3 separate regions of the Homo sapiens genome follow, and all the other regions are linked to region 1. Evidence: fine-mapped expression QTL. A gene starts in region 1. Each other region holds a variant in brackets. All regions are shown on one strand. Distances are between the middles of the regions. Region 1 holds the start of FCER2 (Fc epsilon receptor II). Region 2 has its middle 4.3 kb from the start of CD209. Region 3 overlaps CD209 (CD209 molecule).

Evidence for each region. PIP is the estimated chance that this variant, and not a neighbour inherited with it, causes the effect.
Region 2: its variant is fine-mapped to the expression of FCER2 in whole blood (TOPMed, PIP above 0.99).
Region 3: its variant is fine-mapped to the expression of FCER2 in whole blood (INTERVAL, PIP 0.95).

The regions. Positions count from the first base shown.
Region 1 is chr19:7,698,304-7,706,481 of GRCh38, forward strand. It overlaps FCER2 (Fc epsilon receptor II), which reads right to left and starts at 3,828. Exons shown (of 11, transcript NM_001220500.2): 1 at 3,712-3,828; 2 at 1,436-1,542; 3 at 438-551; 4 at 53-106. The coding sequence starts at 1,457. LOC105372262 (a long non-coding RNA gene) reads right to left here. Exons shown (of 5, transcript XR_936296.2): 2 at 7,942-8,178; 3 at 7,514-7,633; 4 at 6,489-6,599; 5 at 4,777-4,818. RefSeq lists enhancers at 1,542-1,611, 3,715-3,824, 7,193-7,262.
Region 2 is chr19:7,747,756-7,755,933 of GRCh38, forward strand. It overlaps the pseudogene RPL21P129. Among named protein-coding and RNA genes, the nearest start is that of CD209, 4.3 kb to the left of the region's middle. RefSeq lists promoters at 1-1,084, 1-797, 1-864, 1-263, 1-228 and 5 more, cis regulatory regions at 92, 627, an enhancer at 847-1,348 and a silencer at 1,128-1,422. The variant A/G (reference allele first, on the strand shown) is at 3,689.
Region 3 is chr19:7,735,794-7,743,971 of GRCh38, forward strand. CD209 (CD209 molecule) reads right to left here. Exons shown (of 7, transcript NM_021155.4): 7 at 4,200-7,447. The coding sequence ends at 7,246. It also overlaps the pseudogene LOC100129391. Among named protein-coding and RNA genes, the nearest start is that of CD209, 7.7 kb to the right of the region's middle. RefSeq lists an enhancer at 7,655-7,754. The variant G/A (reference allele first, on the strand shown) is at 3,478.

The DNA of each region.
Region 1 (8,178 bases):
GCTGGGCATCCTAACCCTCACCCCCACCCCCTCCACCTTGACCCCTTCATACCGTTCCGGGCAGCCCTCTCTTCCAGCTGTTTTAGACTCTGTGTGGTGTCCCAGTCTGGGGAGGGGGAGAGAAGAGGAGTGGAGAGGGGGGATTGTCAGTGCCCCCACCTGCCTGCACCCCACCTCCCAGCTGGGGATGGAGGTCTTGGGTATAAGCCATGGAGGTGCTGAAAGTGTGGAGGACAGGGATGCTGGGTGTGGGGTGAGGGGCTCTGGAGGGTGGGGGATGGGAAAGGGCTGGCAGTGGCAAGATGGGAGGCAGGATGGGAAAATTGGGTTTTGAGAGGATGCGTTGGGCTCCCCCAGCTCTGAGATGGGGGTGAAGGAGGGAACACAGAAGGGCCCCATGAGTTGGGGGGACCACATGGAGCTGGGGGTGTCCTCACGCCACAGGAGAAGCAGAGTCAGCAGCCCAGCCCACAGAGCGGCGGTCACCAGCCCCAGCAGCACGATCTGAGTCCCACGCCTGCAACACCGCCTCCTGGGAAGCTCCTCGATCTCTGCCGGGGGTGGAGGGACTGACTATGGGTGCAGGGTGAAGCTGGATGCTGGCCCTGTCCGTCTCTCCATTACCCAGAGCCCCCGACAGCCTGGGAGCTTGTCCAGAGCCCACACTGAAGCAAAGGGTCTCAGTGGACCCCCAGCTCCATTTGCACAGCTTCCTTACCTGACTCAGGGCTGGGTCACTGACCACAGAGACAGATCTGGGACTAAGAGCTAAGACTCCCTCAGCCCCAACAACCAATGCCAGGCCCCCAGCTTCACTTCCAGAAGACTAGGTCCTGCTTTTTCCTTCCCCTCTGAGCCCCAACGCCCACCCTTACACCTCTGCACCTGTCCCCAACCTGGAGTCCCTTCCCTAAACCCAGGACACTGAGTCCCAGTTCTTCCCCAACATCGGAGCCACTCCCCAGCCACTTTCCCAGGTGTCATCCAACATCCAGACCTCCAAACCTCTCCCAGACCCCACCCAAAGGTCTATCTGGATGTCCCACCTCAAGCCCCTGGCCCTCTGCACTCACCCTGGCTTGGAGGATTCATTATGCTAAATTCTGCTTGTTCCAAGTTCCTGTTCTATTTGGCCTCTGACTCTATTGGGCTCCCCGCTCCCTAGCTGAAGCCGTTTTTTTTTTTTTTTCTTTTTCTTTTTTTGTCAGGAGGGTGTTGAATCAGAAAAAGGAGGGGCCCTCAATTTGCCACTCCTTCCTGGCTCTGTGCCAGGAAAGTCAGTCCGGCCTCACCTCCTTACTCACACCAGTCCCTTTCTTAGAAATTCACCCTCTTTCCCAGAGAGGGACTGGGGAGCCCCGCTTCTCTTCTGGGTGAAAGGCAGTAGCTAAGGGTCATTGCTTCTGCCAACGTTAGAACCAGAGAGTCCTCCTACCTGAATATTGACCTTCCTCCATGGCGGTCCTGCTTGGATTCTCCCGATGATGGAGCACTCACTCCCTGACAACGCAGTCCACTCAGCGGGCACAATCACAGCTCTGGCTGATTTGGGATTTAATGATGGTTAGGGTGAGCCATCAAATCCTAGTTACCAGCACAGGATAGCATCTGGGACTTGGTGGCACTCAGGGGCCATTTGCTGATTTTGTTTAGTCTACAATCTGGACTCACTAGCGTGGTTAGCAGGGAGACACAGCTGGTGTGGAGAGATAGCAGCCTGAGATCAGAAGTGGGGCACTCCAGAGCCCATCACACTTGAGCTACACAGCAGGTGCACCCATGAGATCTTGACAAATGGCTTAATTAACCTGGAAACTTCTTTCCTCATTCGTAAAATGATGATACCAAGAACACCTATACTGTTGGTTGGTGATCTGTGCTAAAAATATCACCAGCGTTTATTATAATTGCCTTGCCTGTGTGACCTCAGCCAAGGATTCAACCATTCTCAGCCTCAGTTTTCCCCTCTGTAAAATGGGCTGATGACAGCACCCAACTCATGAGGCCAAGATAGGATCCAATGAGATCACAGCATACCTGAGGTTTTTGGTGCCGGGCTGCGCACAGTGGGTCTTCGGATTCTAAACATTTATGAAACATCTACTCTGTGCCACGTCCCACTGAGAAATGCTAAGAGCCCATAACCCAGGCCTCAGCCTTCTCCTCTGCCAATGTCCCCAGGGCATCTGTAAAGTGCTCTGACTTTATTTATTTATTTATTTATTTATTGAAATGGAGTCTCGCTCTGTTGCCCAGGCTGGAGTGCAGGGGCACGATCTCGGCTCACTGCCACCTCCACCTCCTGGGTTCAAGCGATTCTCCCGCCTCAGCCTCCCGAGTAGCTGGGACTATAGGCACGTGCCACCATGACCAGATAATTTTTGTATTTTTAGTAGAGACGGGTTTTCACTATGTTGGCCAGGCTAGTCTCAAACTCCTGACCTCATGATCCGCCCGCCTCGGCCTCCCAAAGTGCTGGGATTACAGGCGTGAGCCACTGTGCATGGCCTATTTTTTTATTTTTTGAGATGGAGTCTCGCTCTGTCACCCAGGCTAGAGTGCAATGGCACCATCTTGGCTCACTGCAACCTCCACCTCCCGGGTTCAAGCGATTCTCCTGTCTTAGCCTCCCAAGTAGCTGGGACTACAGGCACCCACCACCACACCTGGCTAATTTTTGTATTTTAGTAGAGACAGGGTTTCACCATATTGATCAGGCTGGTCTCGAACTCCTGACCACAGGTGATCTGCCCTCCTCAGCCTCCCAAAGTGCTAGGATTACAGGCGTGAGCCACTGCGCCCGACCAAGTCCTCTGACTTTAAAGCATCTACTATGTGCTGAGGAGCATGGGACTTGGGGTCCTTCAGGCCTGGAGGTCACGGGCTACCTTCTTTCGCTGCTTGACTATAGGTAAGTCCCTTCTCTCGGAGCCTCAGGGAGGTGGGGTGTGGCGCGGCCAGGCTCTGATTAGCGGCAGCTCAAGCTGGCCCTTTTGACATTGTGAGAGGAACCCAGAGACCATCCTGGGACTGGAACTGTCCAGGGAGGCAGCTGGACAGACCTGAGTCCGAGTCCTGGCTTCTTCCTGGATGAGCAGCTCAGTTTGCTCATCTGTAAATTGGGAGTATTCAAAGCACCAGCACACAGTAGGTGCTCAGTAAACCTACTGGCAGGATGCTGGGGGACTGTCCTCATTCTGTGGGGCCTCTCTCAGTGGAACTGAGGTTCCAAGAGGGTAAGTCATTTGTCCCCATCACGCAGTGGTGGGACTGGAACTCAAACCCGGGACCCTTGAGCTGGGAGCCCATTTGCTCAATCATCTGGAGACATAATCTCATGGTGGGGTGTCTACTGGTAAGTGCTGGGTGGCAGGATCCCAACTCCAGGCCGTCCTTCTAACCCAAGAGGTCCTGCCTCTGCCTAGAGTCTTCCATGGCTCCCCAGGGCCCTCTATGATCGGCCCAGCGCACTCACCAAGCTCATCTCAGACCAGATGGCCTGCTTTCACTTCCCCAAATCAGGGACTCGAATGCCTCGAGATTCTGTCCACACTGCGGCCCCCACCCCCGCCCCCTCACCACCCACCACCTCCCTTCTCTGGTTGTGACCTCCTGCTGGTCATCCCTTGAGGCTCAGCCCAAGGTCGTTTCTTCCAAGGGCGCTTTGATCTCCACTTCCCATGGCCAACCCCCAACACACCAGATACGTACTCACTTAGTGGAGTTTGGAGCCTGTGTCTGTCCTCCTAGTGTGTTGGGGTCGACCAGAGCGATTGGCAGGGACCGTCAGAGACAGAGGTTTAAGCAGGAAGAGAGACACTTTCTTCTGAAAGTAGAGCCACTGACAGCTTCTATTTTCATAGACCTAAATATGGGCTTGCCACCCGGATAACATTACACGCATGGCCTCTCCTGGTGCTCCCCACACCCGGGTGAAGTCCGTGTTATTATTATCTCCATTTCTCAGGTAAGAGAATTGGGTGAGAACTAGAGATGTTAAGCAGCAAGTTCCCACAGGGCTGAAGGAGGTGAGTGGTAGCGTCAAGATGTGAACCACTGTTACTGCACACTGAATCATACCACTATGGCCGATCACAGAGGGCCCTGGGGAGCCACGGAAGGCTCTAGGCAGAGGCAGGGCCTCTTGGGTTAGAAGGACGGCCTGGAGTTGGGATCCTGCCACCCGGCACTTACCAGCAGACACCCCACCATGAGATTATGTCTCTTGATGATTGAGCAAATAGGCTCCCAGGTCAAATGTCCCAGGTTTGAGTCCCAGCAAGAAAAAAGGGAAGAGGAGAGAGAGGCAGAGGAAGGGGAAAAAAAAGACAGAAGGAAGGAGAGGGAGAAGGAGGAGTAGGAGGGAAGGAGGGAAGCGGGGGGAAAGAAAGATACGTGAGATAATATTCAGGTCAAATATGGACAGTTTTGGCTGGGCACGGTGGCTCACGCCTGTAATCCCAGCACTTTGGGAGGCTGAGGTGGGAGGATCACTTAAGCCTGGGAGTTCAAGACCAGCCTGGACAACATAGCAAGCCGTTGTCTCTACAAAAACTATAAAAACTAGCAGGGCATGGTGGTGCATGCCTGTGATCCCAGCTACTGGGGAGGCAGAGGTGAGTGGATCACTTGAGCCCAGGAGTTCAAGATCAGCCTGGGCAACACAGTGAGATGAAAGAAAGAAAGAGAGAGAGAAAGAGAGAGAGAGAGACCGGGCACAGTGGCTCACGCCTGTAATCCCAGCACTTTGGGAGGCCGAGGCAGGTGGATCATCTGAGGTCAGGAGTTCAAGGCCAACATGGTGAAACCCTGTATCTACTGAAAATACAAAAAAAAAAAAAAAAAAAAAAAAATTAGCTGGGCATGGTGGTGGGCACCTGTAATCCTAGCTACTCGGGAGGCTGAGGCAGGAGAATCGCTTGAATCCGGGAGGCAGAGGTTGCGGTGAGCCGAGATCGCGCCATTGCATTCCAGCCTGGGCAACAAAAGCTAAACTCTGTCTCACAAAAAAAAAAAAGAAAAGAAAAAAGAAAGAAAAACAGAAAAGAAACACCAAACTCCATCCCAGCCCCATCCTGGAACTAAGACTTCATCCCCATGTCCTCACAACATGGCCCAGCTGGACTTATTCCCAAGCTTCCTCCTCCTTCTCCTCGTGTGTCCCCATTGGTGGGACAGTCCGTCCATCCACCCAGACACCCCGGCCCAGGTCCAGGCCTTGTCCAAGCACTTCCCGATCTTCCACCCCACCGCTCACCCAGCACCCGCGCCTGGCTCGTCTCAAAAAAATAACCTGCTTCTCCCCATCCCCACAGCTGCTCCCTCTTCCCCCTGGACCAGGTGACATCCCCCTCTTAGGGTTCCCCCTGCCTGGTTTGCCTTGTCCCTGGGACTGCCTCCTCCATGGCCTCCCCACTCTCATCCTGCCCCCATGACAGCCTTCCCTGGGGCTCTACCTCCTGTCTTGCCCCCCAAAACAGACCCTCCAGGGTCCTCACTCCCACCTGGCCACCACGGCAGACCCCCCCTTAGGATCCCCAACCCGACCTGCCCTCAAGACTAATCCCCCAGTGACCCCACCCTGGCTTGGCCTCAAATGCTGTCCCTATGTCCACTCAGCAGCCCCCAGCCACCTCTCCAATGCTCAGCGGCCAACTCTTTCCCTTCCTTTTTGATTTTTTTTCTTTTTTTGAGACAGAGTCTTGCTGTGTCATCCAGGCTGGAGTACAGTGGCATGATCTCAGCTCCCCATAACCTCTGCCTCCCCGGATTCAAGTGATTCTCCTGCCTCAGCCTCCCAAGTACCTGGGATTACAGGCACGCGCCACTACACCTGGCTAATTTTTTGTATTTGTAGTAGAGATGGGGTTTCACCAAGTTGACCAGGCTGGTCTTGAACTCCTGGTCTCAAGTGATCCACCCACGTCGGCTTCCCGAAGTGTTGGGATTACAGGCATGAGCCACCGCACCCGGACCCTCCCTCACTTCTTTACCATCTTGGTCCTCGGCCATTACCCCAGATCAAGGTGGAGGGGACATTTTGGGACCCAAAATGAACAGCCTCAGACCACCAGAGTCAGTCATTCACTCAACAGGCATGCACCAAGGGTCACTCGGTCCAGGGTGACAGACAAGGCAGCATGGTCCCAGCTGTTCTGGAGTGCAGGGTCCAGGGGACATTTCAGCCAGGCCCCTCCCTGACACAGTGGGAACGTCCAGCCCTAGTGGATGGCCCAGCCCAGCCCCCTCCTGGTTGGGAGGTGGGTTGTAGGGGCACAGGGGGGTGTCTTCTGGAGTGAGAGACATGGGAGGTAGCCCACCCAGGAGTGGGGATTTGGAGTTCCCCAGTTGAGAGTGGGGAGGGTGTTAAGGATCAGGGGACACATTTTGGGAAGGATGAGGAGGGTGGGCAAAGTGCCAAGGGGTCTTAGTATATAGAAGTCTAGGTGGCATAGTGGCTAGGGCTGCAGATGCCTGACCCACACTACCTGTGTTCAAATTCCTGGTTCTTCCATTGAAGTGCTGTGTGACCTTTGGCAAGTCACCTAACCTCTCTGTGCTTCACATAAGGCAGCATTGATCACCAAAGCATCTAATTCCTAGGGTGGTGGTGAAAATTAGATGTGTTAATATGCACACAAGTCACTAAGAACTGTGTCCGGCTGGGCGTGGTGGCTCATACCTGTCATCCCAACACTTTGGGAGGCTGAGGCGAGTAGATCACCTGAGGTCAGGAGTTTGAGACCAGCCTGGCCAACACAGTGAAACCCCGTCTCTACCGAAAAGTGCAAAAATTAGCCAGAAGTGGTTCCAGGTGCCTGTAATCCCAGCTACTCGGGAGGCTGAGGCAGGAGAATTGCTTGAACCTGGGAGGCGGAAGTTGCAGTGAGCTGAGATTGCGCCATTGCACTCCAGCCTGGGCGATCCCAAAAAACAAACAAACAAACAAATTCCTGTGCCCAGCAACCATTGCTACTAAATTAAACTATACAACAAAATTGTCCATATTTTTTTTTAGAGACAGGGTCTCGCTCTGTCTCCCAGGCTGGAGTGCAGTGGTGCGATCTCGGCTCACTGCAGCCTCAACCTCCTGAGGTTCAAGAGATCCTCCTACTTTCTCCTCCTGAGTAGCTGGGACCACAGGCACGCACCACCACGCCTGGTTAATTTTTTAAATTTTTGGTAGCGATGGGGTCTCACTATGTTGCCCAGGCTGGTCTCAAACTCCTGGGCTCAAGTGATCCTCCTGCCTCAGCCTCCCAAAGTGCTGGGATTACAGGCATGAGTCACTGTGCCCAGCTGGAATTTGGTGTTTCTGAGTTCTACAAGCCCAGGTGCCCCAGCCCAACCCCACCGGCCCCATCATGTCCTTCCCAGGGGTGAAAGCCCCCTGCCTGCTGGGTTCCTGCCAAGACTCAGCTCAAACACTAGGATGCTTTGGGGCCCCAAGGACCCAGTCACGGGACTGCCCCACCCGCTTCCCCTCTGCGGTATTAATACGCCTCTTGCTCACTTCGGGGGAAAAACAGAAAATTGTGCGGATGTGGGCCCCAGATCTGTGGGTGTCGGTTCTTCTTTCAGATTTGGGATCCTCTGCATGTTGGGGGAGGCCGCGTCTCGCTCCTCGTTTGACCTAGGTCAGAATTCAACAGGAAGGAGTTTAGGGTGTCCAGCAACAACAACCCTCAACCATCTCCAGCTGAGCTCTCATCCCAGCCCCGGCCCTGACCGTAACCCCAGCTCAACTACAACTTGATCCCCTCACCCCACGATGCTCTGATCCCAGCCCTAACCTCTGCTCTGCACAGGACGGAGGCACGTCCGCGGCTCTAATCACAGAACCCCCACACCTGGGACAGGGCCTGGCGCTGTGTCCCAACGAGATGGAGCCTGGCGACCCTGACTCTAACCCCATCCCGACACAGCCCTGGGCTTTCCTACCTGTTTAACCTCTCCTGGGGTTACGAAGGGGAGAAGGAAAGGGTGCAGGGGTGGGGAGGAAGGGCAGTAGGTGTGTCAAATCCAGGGGGGCTTCCAGGAGGAGGTGTGTTCAAAGCTGGGTCTCTCCCACCCTGCACTGTTGACTTTGGGACTGATGATTCCTCGCTGGGATGCTGTCCTGTGCATTGTTGGATGTTTAGAAGCATCTCTGGCCACTAGTCGCCGAAAGAGTCACCG
Region 2 (8,178 bases), 49 kb after region 1:
TGGATGGCTGAGCAGTGGGATGCTTTTAATGAAATCTGATAAATTGTAAGAGAAAGCTACTGTGTTACACCCCCTCCACTAGGGCAAGGGTAGGCAGGTAGCACCCCCAGTTCCTGGAAGCACTGTCCCCTGTGACCTCCTGGCTTTCCTGCTTTGAGCTGCTGCTGTCCTCATTTTTGGGAATTCCTGCTGACTTTGGGAGTTGGGGCAGAATCATAATTGCTTGTTTATTTAATGCCTAGGGTAGTCAGGTACTTTTCCAACAGCTTTATAAACTCATTCATTTAATGTTCCTACCCTTCAGTAGATCATATGACCTCCATTATACAGATGAGGAAACTGAGGAGGCACTGCAAGTTTAGCTAACTGGCCCAAGGTCACACAGCTGGTAGATGGTGGGGCTGAGACTTGAACCCAGTCTGCCTCCACAGTGCATGCTGTTAACCAAAGAGTGAAATAGTATCAAAGAGGAAAGAAAAGATCCATAGCAGCTTTATTTAGAATGATCTGAAATTGGAACAACCCCGTGTCCACCAGCAGGTGAATGATAAAAAATATAATGGCATATTCAAAGATTGGAATACTATACAGCAATGAAAAAGCAAAGTACTAGTACATTTAATAACATAGATAAATCTCACAAAACAGTAAAAGGACCCAGACAGAGTGAGTACACACTGTAAGATTTGATTTTGTGTGAATTTTGAGAACAGGCAGAACTAACCTTTGAAGGAGACTCAGAATGGGAATTATCAGGAAGGAGCAGGTGGAGATTGACAACGGGGTTTCTGTATGCTGGAAATGTTCTATATTTTGATCATAGAGATGTGCATTTACCACATGTGTGTTAAATCTCAGTTTAAAGATGGAAAATACATACATGTATCATAATCAAATAGTGGTTTTCGACCTGATCTTTACTTTGTATTCTTTTTTAAAATGTTTTAATTTTAGAATAATTTTGGGTTTATAGCAAAGTTGCAAATGTAGGAAAGAGATTTCCCATATGTAAATCCCTCACCTAGGGATCCCTAATGTGAACCCAGTTTCTCCTAATGGTAACATTTCACATGGTAATGAGGTAGGAAACTGGAAGAACTTGTTTTCTGGCCACAACCCTGCAGACCCATACAGAATCTGGTCCAGATGAGATGATGTGAAGAAACCAGCAGGAACCAGCAGATGGCAACAAAAGCAATCCCTGGCTGCCTCATTGCTCGTGGGCATAAGATACTCCCTCCAGTGCCATGACTGTTTACCGATGCCATGGCAATGACCTAGAAGTTCCCACCTGTTTCCATGGAAACAACCTGGACATCTTCGCCCTTTTCCTTAAAACTTCTAAAGAACCTGCTCCTCAATTTGCATTGACCCACCCCTTAACTGACGTATAACTGAAAGTGAGTTGACATGAGTATAACTACAGCTGCCAAGAGCTTGTATGTTGTTGACTCTGGGTGCACTGCCTATGAGTTAGCCCTGCTTCACAAGGAGCAGTATCATTACATAAAAAATATCTGTCTAAGGCCAGGTATGGTGGCTCACGCCTGTAATCCTAACACTTTGGGAGGCTGAGGTGGGCGGATCACAGGGTCAGGAGTTCGAGACCCTCCTGGCTACATGGTGAAACCCCATCTCTTTTAAAAATACAAAAAAAATTAGCCAGGCATGGCACGTGTCTGTAGTCCCAACTACTCAGGGGGCTGAGGCGGAAGAATTGCTTGAACCTGGGAGGCAGAGGTTGCAGTGAGCTGAGACTGTGACAATGCACTCCAGCTTGGGCGAGAGAGTGAGACTCCATCTCAAAAACAAACAAACAAAACCGGTGGCTCACGCCTGTAATCCCAGCACTTTGGGAGGCTGAGGCGGGCAGATCACCTGAGGTCAGGAGTTCGAGACCAGCCTGAGCAACATGGTAAAACCCTGTCTCTACTAAAAATACAAAATTAGCCAGGCATGGTGGCTGATGCCTGTAATCCCAGCTACTCGGGAGGCTGAGGCAGGAGAATCACTTGAACCTGGAAGGCAGAGGTTGCAGTGAGCCGAGACTGCAATACTGCACTCCAGCCTGGGCGACAGAGTGAGACTCCATGTCAAAAACAAACAAACAAACAAACAAAAGGTGGCTCACGCTTGTAATCCCAGCACTTTGGGAGGCCAAGGCAGGCAGATCACCTGAGGTTGGGAGTTCAAGACCAGTCTGACCAACATGGAGAAACCCTGTCTCTACTAAAAATACAAAATTAGCCAGGCATGGTGGCTGATGCCCATAATCCCAGCTACTCAGGAGGCTGAGGCAGGAGAATCGCTTGAACCTGGGAGGCAGAGGTTGCGGTGAGCTAAGATCGTGCCATTGCCTTCCAGCCTGGGCAACAAGAGTGAAACTCTGTCTCAAAAAAAAAAAAAATCTCTGTCTGACATCACTGGCTCACCCTTGAATTCTTTCCAGAGCGAAGCCAAGAACCCTCCCCAGCTAAGCCCCAATTTTGGGGTTCACCTGTCCTGCAACATTTGGTGACCTTGAAGGAACAAAGACAGTGAGCAAGCGGCAGTGACTGGTGCAGCACTGCCGATCTGCCGATGGTGATCGCCAGTGAGACAGTGAGACAGTGGGGATCACTGAAGAATTAGTAAGACAGCAGAGACAGTGGCAATTGGTGATTGGCAGAGAGGTGAAACAGCAAGGGATGGCAAGACAGCAAGACGGCAACTGGTAAGGTGGCAAGAGGCGCCCGTCGGTGATAGGTCAGTGAGACAGAGAGGTGGTGATCAGAGAGTGGTGGAGTGGTGGCAAAGAAAGAAAGACAGAGAGGTGGTATATTAGTCTGTTTTCACGCTGCTTGATGAAGACGTACCTGAAACTGGGCAATTTGTAAGAAAAAGAGGTGCCTTTTGGCCGTAACTGCCATCTTCCAGTAATTTGCCAAAATGATGAACGCAAAGGGGAAGAGGAGAGGCACCCAATATATGTTCTCTAGGCCTTTTAGAAAGCATGGAGTTGTTCCTTTGGCCACGTATATGCGAATTTGTAAGAAAGGTGATATTGTAGACATCAAGGGAATGGGTACTGTTCAAAAAGGAATGGACCACAAGGGTTACCGTGGCAAAACTGGAAGAGTCTACAATGTTACCCAGCATGCTGTTGGCATTGTTGTAAACAAACAAGGGCAAGATTCATGCCGAGAGAATTAATGTGTGCATTGAGCGCATTAAGCATGCTAAGAGCTGAGATAGCTTCCTGAAATGTGTGAAGGAAAATAATCAGAAACAGAAAGAAGCCAAAGAGAAAGGTACCTGGGTTCAACTGAAGCACCAGCCTGCTCCACCCAGAGAAGCATGCTTTGTGAGAACCAATGGGAAGGAGGCTGAGCTGCTGGAAACTCTTCCCTATGAATTCATGGCATCAGAGGTGTTAAAAAAATAAAAGACCTCTGGATTGTGAAAAAAAAAAAAAAAAGAAAAGAAAAGAAAAGAAAGAAAGAAAGAAAAAGAGGTTTAATGGGCGGTTCCACATGGCTAGGGAGGCCTCACAATCAGGTGGAAGGCAAAAGGTAAGTCTTACATGGCAGCAGACCAGAGCGAATGAGACAGCCAAGCAAAAGGGGTTTCCCCTTATAAAACCATCGGGTCTCATGAGACTGACTCACTACCACGAAAACAGTGTGGAGGAAACTGCACCCATGATTCA[A/G]TTATCTCCCACTGGGTTCCTCCCACAACACGAGGGAATTATGGGAGCTACGATTCAAGGTGAGATTTGGGTAGGGACACACCCAAACGATATCAGATGGTGATCAGCGGTCAGCAGGATGATGATTGGTGAGACGGAGAGGCAGCAGTTGACGAGAGACAGCAAGACAGCCATCAGCACTACGGTAATCAAAGCTGCAGAGCTGTAACACTAACCAAGGACTCTTTGAAGAACCATCATCTTCCCTAGCAGGCAATGGAGCTGAGCAGATGAACATTCGGCTGTAGTGCCATGTGATGTGGGACCAGCCACTCTGACCAGCAGGCCAATAGGCTACTGGTCCCCTGTGACAGCTGAGCTGGCCCAAGCTGGGAAACCTGGGCACCTGGCCTTGGTGGAGAAGACCTTCACCCAGGCCCTAAGTTGGAGACCAGTCAGTGCCATTTTGGCTCCTGGGGACAGGTGAGTGTCCCCTCTGCCCCCGCCTCCACAGTATTGTGTGAGCCAGGAAATAAGACTTTTGGCTAGATAGTCAATTCAAAGTCCCCTGTAGCACATCTGACCAACTACGTTCTTTTTTTTTTTTCTTTTTTTGAGGCGGAGTCTTGCTCTGTCGCCCAGGCTGGAGTGCAGTGGCGCGATCTCGGCTCACTGCAAGCTCCGCCTCCCGGGTTCACACCATTCTCCTGCCTCAGCCTCCCCAGTAACTAGGACTACAGGCGCCTGCCACCACGCCTGGCTAATTTTTTGTATTTTCAGTAGAGACGGGGTTTCACCGTGTTAGCCAGGATGGTCTCGATCTCCTGACCTGGTGATCCACCGGCCTCGGCCTCCCAAAGTGCTGGGATTACAGGCGTGAGCCACTGCGCCCAGCCCAACTACATTCTTATTACCCCTTTTCTTGGTCCTTCCTCCTCTAATGTCATTTTATTTTTCCATCAGCCGTTTATTTTATTTCATCTTGAAATGTATGTTTTGTTTACAGTTTTAGTTTTTTTGTTTTTGTTTATCATATGATATTACTTATCATGGATATTACTTATTACTTATCATCAGCCAAGCTTGATAACTTAGCTGAGGTACTGTTTGTCATGTTTCTCCCTATACAACATTATGATCAAATAAAGTTTTTTTGACAAACACATGGATGGCATCAGAAAATCTATTAATAATAGCATACCATCCGGGCACTGTGGCTCACATCTGTAATCCCAGCGCTTTAGGAGGCTGAGGTGAATGGATCACCTAAGGTCAGGAGTTCAAGACCAGCCTAGCTAACATGGTGAAACCCTATCTCTACTAAAAACACAAAATTAGCCAACACGGTGGCACATGCCTATAATCCCAGCTACTTGGGAGGCTGAGGCAGGAGAATCGCTTAAACCCGAAAGGCAGAGGTTGCAGTGAGCCGAGATTGTGCCATTGCACTCCAATTTGGGCTACAGAGTGAGACTCCATCTCAAATAATAATAATAATAATAAATCAAATAAACAATTTAAAGTAGAAAACCTACATATCACAGTAGATCAAATAAAAGGGTTCAATAAAACTCAACAGTGACTCATGATTTACATTTTTAAGTCTTCATCAACTAAGAGTAGAAGGAAATATCCTTAACATGGTTGTGGTATCCATCAAACCCACAGCAAACACCATTTCTACTGGAGAAACTTTAGAAGCATTCCCATTGAAATCAAGACAAATGAAAAGAAAATCCACAAACTTGCAAAAATATTTGCAAGACATATATAAAGAAATCATCCAGCCTGGGCAGCACCGTGAGATCTTGTCTCTACAAATAATTTAAAAATTTAGCCAAGCGTGGTGGTGCACACCTGTAGTCCCAGCTACTTGGGCAGCTGAGGTGGGAGATTGCTTAAGCTCAGGAGGTCAAGGCTGCAGTGAGCTATGATAGTGCCAGTGAGCTTCAGCCTGGGAAACAGAGCAAGACCCAATCTCAAAAGAAAAAAGAGACTCATATTCAAAGTAAGTAAAGAACTCCTAAAACCCAACAGTAAGAAAACAACAAACCTAGTTTAAAGATGAGCAAAAGTACAGATCAACAATGGAAAAACAACCCAATTAAAAATGGGCAAAGGACTTGACTAAACATTTTTCCAAAGAAGATATACAAGTGGCCAACGAGCACGTGAAAAGATGCTCGACATCACTAATCATTCAGGAAATGCAAATTAAAACCACAATGAGATACCACCTAACACCCACTAGGATGACTACTACAAAAAATAATAACGTGGCCGGGCACAGTGGCTCACGTCTGTAATCCCAGCACTCTGGGGGCCGAGGCGGGCAGATCATGAGGTCAGGAGATCGAGACCATCCTGGCTAACACGGTGAAACCCCGTCTCTACTAAAAATACAAAAAAATTAGCCGGGTGTGGTGGCGGGTGCCTGTAGTCCCAGCTACTCGGGAGGCTGAGGCAGGAGAATAGTGTGAACCCAGGAGGCAGAGCTTGCAGTGAGCCAAGATCATGCCACTGCACTCCAGCCTGGGCGACAGAGTGAGATTCCATCTCAAAAACAATAATAATAATAATAATATAATAACATAACAAATAATGGCAAAGATGTGGAGAAACTGGAACTCTTGTGCATTGTTGGTGGGAATGTAAAATGGTGCGGTCACCACAGAAAACAGTATGGCAGTTCCTAAAAAATAGAAATAAAAATTTCATTACATATAATCCAGCAATCCCACTTCTGGGTGTATACTCAAAACAATTGAAAGCAAGGACTGTTTTCTGTTTTATGGTGTAATTGTCTAGTTTTAGTCTTGGCGTAATGTGGGCCTGGTAGAATGAGTTAGGAAGAATTCCTTCCTCTTCAATTTTTTGGATTAGTTTGAGAATTTATGTTAGTTCTTTGTAAGTTTGGTAGAATTTAGCAGTGAAGTCATCCAGCCCTGGGCATTTCTTTGTTGGGAGGCATTTTACTTTGATTCAATCTCATTACTCATTATTGTTCTGTTTCAGGTTTTCTATTTCTTCCTGTTTCAATCTTGGTAGGTTGTCCAGGAATTTATCCATTTCCTCTAGGTCTTCTAATTTGGTTAGCATATAGTTGTTCATAATAGTCTCTGATGATTTTTTTTCTGTGTATTTCTGTGGTTTCAATCGTAATCTCTCCTTTTCAGTTCTGATTTTGTTTATTTGGGCCTTATCTCTTTTTTTCTTGGTTAGTCTAGATAGTGGTTTATCAATTTTGATTATCTTTTAAAAAAATTTCCTTTTGCTGATCCTCTGTTTTTGTTTTTGTTTTTGTTTTTAGTCTTTATTTCATTTAGTTCTGTTCTGGTTTGTGTTATTTCCTTCCATCTAATTTTGGGTTTGGTTTGGTTTTACATTCCTAGTTCCTTGAGGTGTATTCCTAGGTTGTTTATTTGAAATCTTTCTACTTTTTTGATGTAGGCATTTTGTGTGTTTTTTTGTTTTTAAGACGGCATCTCACTATGTTGCCTAGGCTGGTCTTGAACTCCTGGGCTCAAGCAAGCCTCTCACCTTGGCCTCCCAAGGTGCTGGGATTACTGGCATGAGCCACCGCACCCGGCCCTGATGTAGGCATTTATTGCTTTAAACTTTCCTTTTAGTGTTGCTTTTATTGTATCCCACAGATTTTGGTATGCTCTGTGTCCATTTTGATTTGTTTCAAGAATTTTTTTTATTTCTTTCTTAAGGTCTTCATTGACCCAGTGGTTGTTCAGGAGCATATGGTTTAATTTCCATGTATTTGTACAGTTTTCAGAGTTCCTCTTGTTATTAATTTGTAGTTTTACTCCATTGTGGTCTGAGAAGATATTTGATATAATTCTGATTTTGTAAAAAATGTGTTGTGGCCCAACATGTGATCTATTCTGGAGTATGTTCCATGTGCTGATGAGAAGAATGTGTGTGCTGCAGCTGTTGGATGAAATATTCTGCAAATATCTGTTAGGTCCATTTGGGCTAAATTGTAGTTTAAATCTGATGTTTCTTTGTTGATTTTTCTGTCTAGATTATCTGTCTCGTGCTGAGAGTGGGGTGTTGAAGCCCCAAACTATTATTGTATTGAAGTCTATCTCTCCCTGTAGATCTAATAAGATTTCCTTTATATATCTGGGGCTTTGGTGTTGGGTACACATATATTTAAAATTGTTATATCCTCTTGCTGAATCAATCCCTTTATCATTATATAATGACCTTCTTTGCCTATTTTTACTGTCTTTGACTTAAAGTCTGTTTTATCTGATATCAGTGTAGCTACTCCTGCTCACTTTTTGTTTCCATTTGTTAGAATTTCTTTTATCATCCTTTCACTTTTAGTCTATATGTGTTTTTTTTTTTAAGAGATGGGGTCTCACTCTGTTGCCTAGGCTGGAGTGCAGTGGCTATTCCCAGACACAATCAGCTCATTGCACCCTCAAAACCCTGGGCTCAAGCAATCCTCCTGCCTCAGCTCCTTGAGTAGTTTGGACTATAGACACATGCTATCA
Region 3 (8,178 bases), 37 kb after region 1:
ACTTGTTTTTGTCCTCTCCACATTACAATTATGAGATATGTCTATTCAACATTCATTCTGCATTTAAAATGAAGATAAGCACAAAAAATAAATGCTTAGTAAACACAGAACAGGATAAAGCTTCCTTAATTTGAGAAGTGGCAATTTCCAGGATCTTACAGAAATGTCTTCCTTAATAGTGAAACATGAGAACCATTTTTGGTAAGATCCAGAAGAAATTCAAAATGTCCACGGTGTAGGGGATTGAACAGTGTCCCCCAAAAGCAATGCTGGGGCTAACTGTGGTGGCTTACACCTGTAATCCCAGCACTAGGCTGAAGAAGTGCTTGAGGCCAGGAGTTGGAGACCAACCTGGACAACACAAGAAGACCCCACCTCTACAGAAAAATTTAGCTGTGTGTGGTGGCACATGTTTGTAGTCCCAGCTACTCAGGAGGCTGAGGCAGGGCAATCTCATGTCACTACACTCCAGCCTGGGCAACAGAGCAAGATCCCCTTTTTTTTTTTTTTGAGACAGGGTCTCACTCGGTTTGCCCAGTGGCAGAATCACAGCTCACTGCAGCCTTGACCTCCAGAGCACAAGTGATCCTCTTGCCTGAGCCTTCCAGGTAGCTGCAACTGCAGGGGAGCACCACCATGCCCAACTCTTTCTTTCCTTCCTTCCTTCCTTCCTTCCTTCCTTCCTTCCTTTTTCTTTCTTTCTTTCCTCCTTCCTTTTTCTTTCTTTCTTTCTTTCTTTTCTTTCTTTTTCTTCCTTCCTTCCTTTCTTTTTCTTTATTTCTCTCTTTCTTTCTTTCCCTTCTTTCTCTCTTCTTTCTCTCTTCTTTCCTTCTTTCTTTCTTTCTCTCTCTCTCTTCTTTCTTTTTATTCTTCCTTCCTTCCTTCCTTTCTTCTCTCTCTCTCTCTTTCTTTTTTTTTTTTGACAGAGTTTTGTTCTTGTTGCCCAGGCTGGAGTGCAATGGTGCAATCTTGGCTCACTGCAACCTCCGCCTCCTGAGTTCAAGCAATTCTCCTGCCTCGGCCTCCCAAGTAGCTGGGGTTACAGGCGCATGCCACCACTCCTGGCTGATTTTTTGAATTTAGTACAGATGGGGTTTCACCATGTTGGCCAGGCTGGTCTTGAACTCCTCATCTCAGGTGATCCCCCCGCCTCGACCTCCCAAAGTGCTGGGATTACAGATGTGAGCCACAGCACCCAGCCAGTTTTTCTATTTTTTTTTTTTTTTTTTTTTTTTTGTAAAGATTTGATCTCACTTTGCTGCCTAGGCTGGTCTCGAACTCCTGGCCTCAAATAGATCCTCCTACCTCTGCCTCCCAATGTGCTGGAATTATAGGTGTGAGCTGCCTCACCCAGCCCCTATCTCTTAAAAGCAAAACAAAGCAAAATGAGAGAAGAGAGACACAGAGGGAAGATGACGTGAAGAGGTAGGAAGGGAGAAAATCATGATAACAGAAGCAGAGATTCCAGCAATGGGTGTACAAGCCAAGGAACGCCAAAGGTTGTCGGCAACCACCAGAATCTAGAGAAACGCAGGGAAGGTTTCTCCCCTACGCAATTCAGAGTGAACACAGCCCTGCTGACACCTTGAGTTCAGACTTCCGGCCTTCAGGACTGTGAGAGAATAAATTTCTGTTGTTCAAAGTCCCCGCTTTGTGCTACTTTGTCGTGGCAGCCCTAGCTCACTGATTCTGGCTGGATAAGGGGTAATTTCTGTGAGCCTGCCGAAACGCCTTACTCAATAGTGAAATGTGAGAAGCATATTTAGTAAAATCAAGAACACGATAAAGATGCCCCTCTTGCTATTTTGTCGATGCAATAAGGAAATATAAAGAATTAAGACCTGTAAATATTGGAAAGGATGAGTCAAAGCTGACAATATTTGGAAGATGCGATCTTGTATCTAGGAAGCTCTAGGGACTTCTGGACTAATTAAAGAACTTGGTTGGGCGCAGTGGCTCACGCCTGTAATCCCAGCACTTTGGGAGGCTGAGGTGGGTGGATCAAGAGGTCAGGAGATCAAGACCATCCTGACTAACATGGTGAAACCCTGTCTCTGCTAAAAATACAAAAAAAAAAAAAAAGTAGCCGGGCGTGGTGGTGGGTGCCTGTAGTCCCAGCTACTCGGGAGGCTGAGGCAGGAGAATGGCGTGAACCTGGGAGGCGGAGCTTGCAGTGAGCGGAGATCGCCCCACTGCACTCCAGCCTGGGCGACAGAGTCAGACTTCATCTCAAAAAAAAAAAGGGAGGACATTCTGACACATGCTACAACATGATGAACCTTGAGGAAAATATGCTAAGTGAAATAAGCCAGTCATAATAAGACAAAGGCTGTATGATTCCATTCATGCGGGGTCCCTAGAGTCATCAGATTCATAGAAACAGAAAGTAGAATGGTGGGTGCCAGGGGCTGGGGAACGGGGAATGGGGAGTCAGTGTTTCCTGGGGACAGAGTTTCACTTGGGAAGATGAAAAAGTTTGCGAGATGAATGGTGGTGATGGTTACACAACAATGTGAATCTACTTTGTAAAAGAAAAGAAAATTTCATAGGCTGGGCACGGTGACTCACACCTGTAATCCTAGCACTTTGGGAGGCGAAGGCGGGTGGATCACCTGAAGTCAGGAGTTCGAGACCAGCCTAGCGAATGTGGTGAAACCTTGTCTCTACGAAAAATACAAAAAAATTGCCGAGCATGGTGGCGGGTGCCTGTGATCCCAGCTACTCAGGAGGCTGAGGCAGGAGAACTGCTTGAACCCAGGAGGCAGAGGCTGCAGGGAGCTGAGATTGCACCACTGCGCTCCAGCCTGGGTGACAGAGTGAGACTCTGTCTCAAAAAATAAAAATAAAAATAAAAATCCTTTGGGCTCCACCTACTCCACAGATAGATTTTCAAAATTCTGTTGAAGGATTTCCAAACAGATTTTAAAACAAACTTGACAAGCTCATTATTTGGAATATAATAAAGAGGTTATACTCTTTAGTTGGGAATAAATAGCAAAGCTACAAGTGGGGACAGTAACCTCTTGAGATGGGAAAACGGGGACGGAATGAGCTTTAGTTTTCACTGTAGAGATTGATACGTTTTGGTTCTGTGTGCACACGTGACTTATTCCACAAGTAAATGAAAACCTTTAAAGCCAGAGTAGACTCAAAAATCATCCAAAAATTGCACAAGAATACCTGAGAACATTTTGATAGAGAAGAGCCATGACCAGGCAGGCCACAGCGGCCCAGGCCTGTAAACTCAGCACTTTGGGAGGCTGAGGCAGGAGGATGAGTTGAGCCCGGGAGTTCAAGAACAGCATGGGCAACACAGTGAGACCCCATCTCTACAAAAAATTTTTTAAAAGTAGCTAGATATGGTGATGCACACGTGTGGTCCCAGCTACTCAGGAGGCTGAGGTGGGAGGATCACTGGAGCCCATGAGGTCAAGGCTGCAGTGAGCCATGATTGCACCACTGCACTTCAGCCTGGGT[G/A]ACAGAGCAAGACCTTGTCTCCCACATAAAAGGAGCCATGCCTGGTAGTTATCAAAATATAAGCTTGGCTTGGGTTTCCCCTACTAAAGAGCTTGAGACAAGGATTTGGATATAAGTAGCTTATCTGGGAGGAGATTCCAAGAAGCATCAGCAGGGGATGGGAAGAATGAAGAGGAGCAGGTAGGGAAAGGAAGGAACCCAATACAAAGGCACCAATGAGCTGAAAAGGGCAATTGGGTCCAATCCCCCTGGGAGCCTCTGGGAGACGACATAGAACAAGCCTCACAGTTCCTCTGCCTGTTGAAGGTCAACTCTTAAGTAAGACGGAATTTAGCTTGCAAGCTGTTTATGAAGGTGCATCTTTGGGGTCAACATCAGTAGAAAGGAAGTGATGTTTGTGGTGTCTTATTTACACCAAAGAAATTCTCTAATTCTAACACTAGCTTCCTGGAGTTAGCACCACATTCCACAAATTAAAGGGCTAGGTCCCAAAAGACTGACCCTGCTTCAGATGCCAGGTGCAAAGACAGTCTTTGCACTGTCTACCCACACTTCTGCCAGGCTGGCAAAAAATTGTGGCTTCCCATAAGTCCATCTCAAGTTCAGTAATTTCCTAGAATGATTTAGAGAACTCGGGAAAACATTTTGCTTATGTTGTTGCCGAACTAAATTGGGTCAGTTCCCTGGCTCACAGTGGAAAACCAAACACTGAAGCACTGGGGTTTTGTAGAGAGAAAAATTTATTGCAAGGCAGCCAAGCAAGGACACAGGAGTCTGGCCCAAATCTGTCTCTCCAAGTTGGAGGCTGGGGCAGATTTTATATACAGAGGGTAGTGAGGCATGATATGATTGGATCTTGTAATGAGGGGATTCAGGAGGCTTGATCTGACTGGATCACGCCAGGGCTCAATCTGATTGGATCAAGGATCATGCCACGTGGTGTCCACTTCTTAACTCAGTCCCTGTTCCTCGGTCTGAGCACTTAGGTTCCACGTGGATTTGCACGCTTCGTTCATCTGGACATGCCCAGGGTATGTAACTTGCAACCTGGGGGTCCACGACAACTGAAAAACAACTCGCCATTTTATTACACAAAGTTGAACCAGATTGGGCTGAATCTGCGGTTACAATGTTTACCAGTTTATTATAAAGGATACAACTAGAGGGGCGGGGCGGTGCCGGCAAGATGGCTGCGCCCGAAAAGGTGACATTTCCAGAGAAACCAAGCCACAAAAAGTACAGGGCCGCCCTGAAGAAGGAGAAACGAAAGAAACGCCAGCAGGAACTTGCTCCACTGAGGGACTCAGGACTCTCACAGAAAGAGGAGGACACTTTTATTGAAAAACAACAACTAGAAAAGCTATGGGGAAGAGAGAGGCAAAGATTACATGAGGAGTGGTTGCTGAGAGAGCAGAAGGCACAAGAAGAATTCAGAATAAAGAAGGAAAAGGAAGAGGTGGCTAGAAAACGGCAAGAACAAGAGCGAAAGTTAAAGGAACAATGGGAAGAACAGCAGAGGAAAGAGAGAGAGGAGGAGGAACAGAAACGACAGAAGAAACAAAAACCGGAAGCTGTCCAGAAGATGCTGGATCAGGCTGAAAATGAGTTGGAAAATGGCGCCACATGGCAAAACCCGGAACCCCCCCTTGGATTTCAGAGTCATGGAGAAGGATGGAGTTAATTGTCCCTTCTACAGTAAAACAGGAGCTTGCAGATTTGGAGATAGATGTTCACATGATTTCCCAACATCCAGTCCTACCCTTCTTATTAAAAGCATGTTTACAGTGTTTGGAAAGGAGCAGTGCAGGAGGGATGACTATGACTCCGAAGCAAGCCTGGAGTACAGCGAGGAAGAAACCTACCAACAGTTCCTAGATTTCTGTGAGGATGTGCTGCCCGAGTTCAAGAACGTGGGGAGAGACTGGGCGCGGTGGCTCAGGCCTGTAATCCCAGCACTTTGGGAGGACGCGGCGGGCGAATCACGAGGTCAAGAGATCGAGACCATCCTGGTCAACATGTTGAAACCCCGTCTCTACCAAAAATACAAGAATTAGCTGGGCGCAGTGGTGCACGCCCAGCTAATTTTTGTACTTTTAGTGGAGTCCCAGCTACTCGGGAGGCTGAGGCAGGAGAATCGCTTGAACCCGGGAGGCGGAAGTTGCAGTGAGCCTAGATCGCGCCACTGCACTCCAGCCTGGCGACAGAGCAAGACCCCATCTTTAAAAAAAAATAGTAATTAAAAAATAACGTGGGGAGAGTGATTCAGTTCAAGGTCAGTTGCAACTTGGAACCTCACCTGAGGGGCAAGTATATATGTTCAGTACCAGTCGGAAGAAGAATGCCAAGCAGCTCTTTCTCTGTTTAACGGACGATGGTATGTACGCAGGACGACAGCTTCAGTGTGAATTCTGCCCAGTGGCTCGGTGGAAAATGATGATTTGTGGTTTATTTGAAATACAACAATGTCCAAGAGGAAAACACTGCAACTTTCTTCAGGTGTTGAGAAATCCAATAGAGACCTCTGCTTGTCTCCTCCTTTGGCAAGAGCTCCAAGGGGAGAGAGAGGGTGGGCCACCACGATGAATACTACAGGCTGCGGGGAAGGAGAACCCTAGTCCAGACCATTCCTACAAAAGAAATGGGGAATCCGAAAGGAAAAGGAAGAAATCTCACTAGCACATGTCAAAGAGCCAGGAGAGGCACAATTCACCTAGCAGAGGAAGAAATAGTGACCGCAGCGGGGGCCGGTGCAGCCGCAGTGAGAACGGCCGGAGCCGTCACAGCCGGAGCCAAAGCTCCTCTAGATCCCAAAGTCGTGGTAGGAGGAGATCAGGTAGTAGAGACAGAACTGTTCAGAGTCCCAAATCCCAATAAACCTGTTTTATTCTTACAAAAAATAATAGGCCAGGCGCGGTGGCTCACACCTGTAATCCCAGCAATTTTGGGAGGCCGAGGCGGGCAGATCATCTGAGGTCGGGAGTTCAAGACCAGCCTGACCAACACGGAGAAACCCCATCTGTACTAAAAATACAAAAAATTAGCCGGGTCTGGTGGCGCCTGCCTGTAATTCCAGCTACTCGTGAGGCTGAGGCAGGAGAATCACTTGAACCCGGGAGGCAGAGGTTGCAGTGAGCCAAGATCGCGCCATGGCACTCCAGCCTGAGCGACAAGAGTGAAACTCCATCTCGAAAAATAGTAATAATAATAATAAAATAAAGAATACAACTTAGAAACAGCCAAATGGAAGCCATGTATAAGACAAAGGAAGATGTGGGGGTGGAAGGGGTTGCGTGGAGCCTCCATGCCCTCTCTGGGTGCCATTGGTTGACTGGGGGAATTAATTCCCTGGTGCTTCCAGCCTGCAAAATGAGCTCTTGCAACCAGTAAGTCCCCGATCAAAGGGGTGCAGGAGGTGGTAGGTGGAAGTTGAACAGATGGTAGGTTTGCATGTATAAGATAACGCCCCAGGGGACATAGCAGCTACACATGGCAACCCAAATATCCTAATCTCCAAAAGGAAGAGAGAGTGGATTCTTGGAACACAAGTCCACCCCCAAAGGCATCCCACACCAGCTCACTCATAAAGCTCCAAGGATGGGCCAGAAAAACAAGCTCTACACCAGGGGAAATTGGAGGCATGACAAGAAGGACAGAATGGGACCCAGCCTTCTAAAGGAGGAAGAATCTGACAAAGAACAGTCCCAGAGATTTTGTGAAGGTCGAAGGATGGAGAGAAGGAACTGTAGCTTAAAAGGGGGTGAAGTTCTGCTACGCAGGAGGGGGGTTTGGGGTGGCAGGGGCTGGAGAAAGAAACTGTTCTTCATCCCTGGAGCAGGAGGCTGCGGACTTTTTGCAGATCCAGAATTTGGCAAGATTACATTTGTCGTCGTTCCAGCCATTGCCACTAAATTCCGCGCAGTCTTCCTCCCCAACGTTGTTGGGCTCTCCTCTGTTCCAATACTGCTTGAAGCTGCAAAGCCCATGCGGAATGTGAGCCTCTGTCCCCGCCAGCTACATGAGCTGTGTTTCTACCTTCTGTCATCTTGATGCCTTAACATCTGCCCTGCGTGTGTATGCTGGACTTGAATCCCTCTGCATACCTGATAATATGCCTGACTCACGATGCCTTGAGTTCCTGCCTCTCTTCTCACAACCTGTCCTTGGGTGGACTCCACCTATTGAGTGTGTGATTTTCAAATACAAGCCAACCAGTCTGGAGTCCACACCTCCAGCGACCTGCCTTACTGGGCTCTTGTACTCCAAGCCACTATCCTGTACTAATCACCCCAAGGCCAGGTGTCAGACAGCGAGGGGCAGCCCCTGTGCCCCAGAGCCCAAAAAATGCTTCACACTTCCCAATCCTAAGCCTGTTCACCTGGCCTTGACCTTTCCTTTCCACAGAAACCATAATAAAGGCTCTGGCCCACAGTCCCCCCTCCCCACCACTCTGACTCATAACAGACCCTGGTGCTTCCCCAGGTGGCCCCCAGCTGTGATGTGTCCTCTCTCTAGGGATCTGTGTATATGAGAAGCTATTCACAATGGCAGGTGTCTCCTGAGCTGGTGGCCTTACTGGACCTCAGACTTCCTATTAATACATTATATTTTAATACACCTCCCCGGTGGCAGGCTCCTCCTGCAGCTCTGCTGGTGGAATTCTAGGCACCTGCCATGCTGTCTGGAAGTGGGTATGAAGACCAC